2 linked regions of the Homo sapiens genome follow. The protein of the gene in region 1 purifies or fractionates together with the protein of each later gene. This does not show direct contact. Each region holds a gene or a part of one and is shown in the gene's direction. Other genes may lie near its edges.

Region 1 (3,650 bases):
GGGGCTCTGGCCCTAAGATACACCAGGGTTGATTAAGTGGAGGCATCTCGTTGCCGGGAGCAGACGCTACAGAACTGGATCAGGCGCTGTCCCTTGCAGAACACCCACCGCCCACCTTCTGCCACTGAGAGCCTCTGAAAGGAATGGCTGCTTGTGCTGCAGCTTCCTCTTTCTAGAAAACCGACCATTTCTCCTTCGAAGGATTATTGTTTCTTTTAACACCTTCAGATTTGCTTGGCTAGGTTCCTCTCTTACCTTTCTCATTTCCTCACCTCTCCTCACATCCCGCATCCGCTTAGCAGCTAGCCTGAGACACAGACAGGGCAGAGGAGAAGGAAAAGGTGCCTCGGCAAAGTTCACACTCCCCTTCGCGCAGCACCCGGGAGGTGGGCGGTGGGCGCCGTTCGGCTGGGCAGGCCGGCCAGGTTCCTGCCATGCACAGTACACACGTGGTGCCAGCAGCAGCTTGAGCTGGGCAATGCTTCTGATATTCAGGGGTGGCAGACGAGACCATAGCAATATCTACTGGCAAAGTGGAAACATCAGCCTGGGATGATGGGACCCTGGGCCTGACATAGGCATTGTGGGCTCTTGGAAGCATGGCAGTAAGGGGAGGGCGTCAGGGAGCCTCATCGAATGGAACCTGCCTGCCAGGCTTGGGGCTGCCAACTTGAGGCAAGTTCCTGGCAAGGCGTGCACAGTGGCACAAATGTAGCTCACCTCCGCCCTTTGTATTAGGAGGCCACCCCACCAATGGGGATGGCCGTCTGAGCATTCGCTCAAGCGTGCCTGGAGAGTGTCTGCCCTGGCCGGCAGGTCTCGCTGCATGAAGACCATTCTTGAAACTGCAGCTTTAGTTACCAGGCACAGAGCCTGGTCCTGGTCCTGATTCTTCCCTTTTTTGGTTCCCTTAAAGCCAAATATAAGCCCCCAGATCTCGTCTTATCAGCTGCAATGTACAGTCCCTGACTTCTGTTCTTTCTCAGTAACCTCCTTCCATAGCGCTGGTTTTAATTCAGGCGTCCTGCGTAGTGTCTTCAGGTGTGTCTCTTGGTTCCCTGCCTGAGGTGATAGGGTCTAGATTGCCTCCTGGCAGTTCCCTGGGTTCTGCTCTCTGCCTGCGTACTGTCTGCCAGGCTGATAGTGGCTCCTTTTCTTGATGGGCCAAACAACCTGGTGTTGATTTTAGCCAAAACTTGTCCCTTGGGATGAAGTGAGCTCTCTCAACATCCCAAGAAATGGCAGAATTTCTGAATCAATATGGGGCACATGATTCTGACGTGTACAGAAAACACATGCTGGAGAGATTTGTAATGCTCTTGCCATTCAATCATAGTAGAGGCACACTTTGGGTAGGATGAACAGGTCTGTGATTTGGCTTTTTTCCTAGTATTTTGGATTCAAGCTCATGATCTGCTTCTGCTCACAAACTAGAATGCTAAAGATTAACAAACAAACAAACAAAAAACCCACATTGCTCTCTCTCTTGCTGCAGCAGAGATCCTACAAATGCTTCACACACCCAATATGCGTGGTCTCCAGGTTTCAAGCCATTTCTAGTGGTCTGAACATAGCTCCATGGGGGACATGTACATCTAAGCTCAAATTTCTCTGTTTTCTGTAGGGAAAAATCTCTCCCTCTGCGGGCCTATCTCCCCACCTGCCCACCAGGCCGGGGAGCGACTCCCCTGGGTGTTGTAAGGACTCATTAATGCTTGTAACACTCCAAACATGTGGTGCTAAGTGGAACTCCATGCTGAGATTATATTTATGCAGTTTACTTCCTTTCTGCTCTATTGTCTTGTTACATGTTTACTTTATGTCTATAGTCATTTGAAATTCAATAAAACCAATTAAACATAAAAAAAGAAAGCATGCAGTAATAAAGAAGTCGATGGCATACAGTTTGGAAGGGTCAAAGGGTACCATCCTAGTGTTCCTAGAAGCATCACCTCCCCATTGCCGGAGGGTGCTTCATCTTATCAGAGAGTGCACTGGGGAAGGGCAGAAGGGCTTTAGAAGGCACTTGCAGGGAGCATGCCTCCCATCCCTTTGCAAAAGGAGGCTTCAGTGTGGGACTGCAGCGTGAATGGTGGAGAGGGGGAGCACTAGGGAGGATGGAGCTGGAGGTAGGAGTTTCAGAAAAAATAGCTCTAATCTGGATTGGCAAAGGGTGGGAAAAAAAGAGCTCTGGCTTCTGCTTTGACTGATTTTGGTCGGTAACCTCTGAGAACTTTATTTTTTCTTTCATGTATGTATGTATGTATGTCTTTATTTATGCAACCCTCTGGATTAAGCCTGCTCTTGCTACCACTGCTTAAACTGAAAAGATATAGGACTGCATCCATTTTCCTTCCCATTCTCTCTCCCTCCTTCCCTCCTTCTCTCCTTCTGCCCACTCCCCCTACTTCTCTGTTCTTCACCTTCTCTTTTTCTCTTTCCCTTTTTCTGTTTTCCTTTCATTTTTCCTTCTCCTCTATGGGAAAAATAATTGATCAGTTGACAGATCTAGGTCAAGCTGGCAGGGGTTGCTCTGCTTCATGCAGGCTTGCCTAGGAGAAGGAGGGGAGAGCCTGTCTTCACAGTTCACAAGGAGCCCAGCTGATGGGATGGAAGCGGGGAGGGAGGCCAACGGACCATGGGCGAGTTCAGCCCTCCCCAAAAGGTTCTCTGGGATCCTATTAATTACAGAGTCTTCCATTATTTGGTATCTCTCACACTCTAATTTTCCATATCAAATTTATCTTTGCCTATTTCCTGCTTTTTTTCTCAGCTTCTATAAGCTGTCTGTTTCGGTTTTTCTTGTTCTTCTTTCTACTTGCCCCTCCTTTCTCTTCTCCTTTTCTACTGCTTCTAAAATCATGACAGGAGATCACAGAATCTCCCCTACTTAAGTCATATTAGAGAAATGGCCTTTTGTTTATTTGCAAGTGGAGAAACAGAAACCCTGCCAGAAGAGCTCTGTAAGTCATTTGCAAACTGCAAAACAAACCAACAAAGATTCACATTTTCATTGCGGAGAAGAGCGTATTTCAAGAGAGACTGTCAAGCTAAGAAATCAAATATTGGAAAACACATTCTTCAGCTCTGTTACTAAGGACATCTTAGGTTACTAAATTTGATTTTTTTTTTTTTTTTTAGCTTCAGTGAGAGTATTGCCCTTTGCGATAAGAAAAGACTGATCAAAAGACTGCTGGTTTTGGCTTTACTTCCTCATTCAAATTCACTCGCTAGTGGTGCTTCCTTTGCTCATCTTGGAAGCGCCACCAAACTCTCACCCTAACACCAAATCCATCTGGTTGTTTATTTGCCCACGGGTTCAATCACATCCAAGTGTTTATTGAGTGTCTACTACGTTCGGTGCACTGTTTTAGGTGCTGGAGATAAAACAGCGATGAAAAAGCAACTAACGGATAAGACCAAAGACCTAGTTGGGTCTCTCAGATTTGGTTTGGCTTGGCATCCTTTGTCATAAACGGAAAGCAACAACAGCAGTACCGGAAGCAAGGGTGGAGACTTCATGGCACAGCCTCTGGCCTCCTGTGCAAATGATGATGGATGGCAGGGAAGTAACCAGCCCTCAATCCTTGTTTTGAGACAGGGGTTTGGGAAGAGGAGGTGCACACCCTGGCTCTGGGTTCTCATAACAC
Region 2 (3,650 bases), on another chromosome or scaffold:
TCCCACCGTGGCATCTCTGCCTTCCCGAGGCTGAGGGAGGCTGGCTGACGTAGAGGTGTGGGCTGGAGCCTCCCCTTGCTCAGGGAAACCCTCCCCTCAGAGCCCTTCTGTGCCCTGGACAGTTCTGTTCACCAGTGACTGGGAAAGGGCTGAGAGAGGAGGGGGGTTTGGGTTCTGATCTGTTAGTGCTGAGGGAAGGGCTGGATCAGCCTGCAGCTCCTGGGCTCACCAGGACAGGAGGAGAAAGTGGCCCCCACAGAGGTCCCTACCCTGCTTCTGAGACACTGAGGTCAGAGTTGGGGCTCAGGGTGATGCCCAGAACAAGAGACAGATGCTGGAGGTAGGGGCCCCAGTATAGCTCAAAGGCCTTAGGCTGCTCTGACAAGCCTTCTCCCTGGGACAGGGAGCATCAAGGGACCTGAGGACTGCCTGGTGACTTCCCGTAGCTCCTCTCCCTCTTACCCTGACCATGGCCTTCCTGTTCCTGGCTTTGAGGTTCTGGTTATTGTAGAGCAAAGAGTAGATGGAGACCTGGGGACCAGGGCCTGATTTGGCTGCTCACAGTCTGGGCTGGGTGGAGGTTGCTAGGAATGCAGAAGTTAGCAGCAAATCATGAGCAGTGGGTGCAGAGTAGTTGCCCCAAAATCCCCCCACCCTGCATTTCCCAACGCCACTTCCTCTCAGTCAGGAAATGGAGAGATTTGCTATTGTCCCTGGAGCAAGAGAAGATTGTAGCGGCTCTGAGAATCCCGTGCCTTCCTCTTTAAGCCCAAAGCTCCCTCTGCCCCCAAGATCAGGCTGTTCCTCGTCCTCTGTGGAAGGAGCAGAACTAGACTACAGTGACCATCGCCCCCCAGCCTGGGCAGGAGCATATGATGCTTGTGACAGGGACTCCTACCAGTCCCCCCTACCAATAGATCAGACATGGGTGGGAGGTGGTTAGAGTGGCAAGGTTGACAAAAGGACCCTGACAGTGTGGCGGGCAGTGGGGAGCTCCTGGAGAGCCCTCTCTGGAGCTTTCAGGAAGGGTCCCTGGCCCTGCAGCCTCCCTGCACATGCATCACAGTCCTGTGTGCTCTCTTCCCCTCTCACACAGGGTGCCCACACTGTAAGAAGGTCATTCCGCACTTTACTGCTACTGCTGATGCCTTCAAAGATGACCGAAAGGTAAGGACAGCGCTCTTCATCTCTTGATCTGCCTGCAGCTAATTCCTACACCTTCCTTCTTGTCATTCAGGTCCTTCCCCAAACAGGGGCAGGTCTGCTAAGACCTGTAAGCAGGAAATTCCTTGGGAACCAGGACATTCTCTTTAGAAGGAAGATAGGGCAGGCTGGATTTATGCTGCAAAATCAACTAAAAGGGATATGCTGAACCATTCCAGCACTTACTTGGAGGAGAGGGATGGTTAAAGGGGTCATCTATTTACTTTTTTAGTGTTTGAACCTTTTTACTGTAGGATTGTCATCATGCATTACTTATATAATTAAAAATACAAATTTAAAAATCCAACAAAAGTCAACTGGAGGATGCCATGGTGGAGGAGAGCAAGGCCATGTCAGTGGAGCCTCGCCCTGCCTAAGTGAAAGGCTCCTGCAGCTGCCGACTGATGAAGCATAAAATTAACAAGCTAGAGCTGCAGATTGGATTAGAGTGCAGGGCCTCCAGGCGCGTCCCCCAGGCACATCCCCCAGGCAGCTGGTGCAGTGGGGGCTTCTGCTGGGAGAGGGCTTGTGGGGCAGGGAAATACCCCTGAATTCGGGGAAGTGTGATTGACTGCCAGCCTTTGAGTTCCCTTCTCATCCATGCCAGGCGGAGCACTGGTGCAGAGGACTGCAAACATTCCTCCCAGCCCTGAGACTCAGTCATGGGAACCTCTGGCCTAACAGGCCCTAGAAGCTGGCAGTCACGTGGGATCTGCATTCACACACACCCAAACCCAGAGTCACGTGCAGGGGTGCCTTACTTTCCTGGGTGGAATCCCAGGTGGGGCCAGGGCAGGCTGGAAGGAACCAAGGCCAGGCATAAGCTGAGCATAGAGTCCTAGATGATAAACAGGCCAAGCAGGCCTAGACGGAAGTTCAGCCGAGGCAGGAAAGGGGAGCAGGTATTAGTGGAGCAGCCCTCACAAGCAGAGACAGATGACCATCCCAGGGCCGGGTGGGCAGGGTTTGAAGTTTTGATCAAGGCCAACAGGAGGTCAGGCCTAAAGGTACCATCCAGACCTTGTGGGAGCAGAGATACAGGTGCTAGGATCACCTTAACAGGCCCAGAGACAGTGGCAGAGATGGGGTAATGAGAACTTTACAGGGACATAAAGCCAAAGGAAGCCAGGCTGGGGACAGGCCCATGCAGGCAGAGTGGGGATGAACTGGGAACCTGATTCTCACTTAGACCCAGAGCCCAGGACTCTCTCTGGAGTCAGGAGGTCCCATTGTTACCCGAAAGCCCTGGCTGCGGCTTTGAGGCACCCCTCACCCCCACCAGAAGGGAGTACAAGGACCAGAAGCGTTTTCTCCTCTGCCTGCCCCTTTCCCTGCACTGAGTGGGGTATGGCAGCAGGGGCTTCCTTCCCGTGTCCATGTCCCTCATTGTTCCCACCCACTTGTGCACAGCACAGGGTAGTTGCTCCTGCTTGGTGGTCCCACGATATCCAGCATGGCCTGGGCTGCCAGTCCACAGGACCGGAATAGCTGCCACTCTGTATTGACGTCCATCACGTGCCACCCAGAATGCTGGGTGCTCTGGGCAGCAGGAGAAAGGCTGAGGTGTGCCATCTCCCTGTCCCACTGGACACTCAGGTCTCCATAGGCCCCAGGAGATCTGTGAGGGTCCTGAGGCATGACTGGCAGACAGATCCTGGGCTTGCCCTCCCAGCCATGCTGGGGAGCATGGTGTCAGGGAGCGTGGTCCAGCTGAGGCACCGAGGGGGCTGGGGAAACCCTGAAGGGGCAGCCCCATTGACGTGGCCCCTTTCTGCCCACTAGACCGCCGCTGAGGCTGTCCTGTGGCCTGACCCACATCAGTGCAGGTGAGGCCAGACTTGCCAGGCCTCCAGCGGGCAGCTGAGAGCCCACGTCTTCTCTTCCCATTCCCCCTGCACTGCTACATGGGGGCCCATTTCCTTGATGCTCCCCTCCGCTTAGACACTGACACACCTTTGCTTGATTGTCTTGGGCCAGTGGTGTTGTGGCCTTTTCCTGGGTTCAGTCCTCCTGTCTCTTATTCCCTCTGTCTCTCCTTTCAGCTTCCTTTATTCCAAGCCAGGGATCACCCTCACTTGCATTCAGGAATGCACTTCATAACCTCTCTGTCTGAGGCAGGTGGCCTGCCTGGGTTTCCTGGAGGTTATATTCATGACATCAGGGAAGCCAGCCATCTGGCCTGGGGGGCTGAACTTACTGGTGCCCACTCTGTGCTCCAGGCATGGCACTGTGACTACTGGGTCCCATCCTACAACTATCAGATCAGAGTCTCTGGGGGATGGTGCTGGAAATTTGTGGTTTTTAAGAGCTGGCTCTTGTGCTGGCCACAGGCTGGTGTGTGGGGACTGTTGGCCTGTCCCCTCTCCCTTTACTCGTGAGGGATCCAGGCCCAGAGAGGAGCTGTGTCCCTTGTTCAGGAATGCCCAGCGGGTCACTGACAGCCAGAA

Evidence for each region. The genes of interacting proteins can lie anywhere in the genome.
Region 2: the proteins of NTM (region 1) and PDIA5 purify together in Homo sapiens (affinity purification with mass spectrometry, with the first as the bait; one large-scale study listed by BioGRID). This does not show direct contact.

The regions. Positions count from the first base shown.
Region 1 is NC_000011.10:131,373,546-131,377,195, forward strand, and holds part of NTM (neurotrimin isoform 9 precursor), read left to right. Parts: intron 1-3,650.
Region 2 is NC_000003.12:123,153,875-123,157,524, forward strand, and holds part of PDIA5 (protein disulfide-isomerase A5 precursor), read left to right. Parts: intron 1-1,096; coding exon 1,097-1,167; intron 1,168-3,650.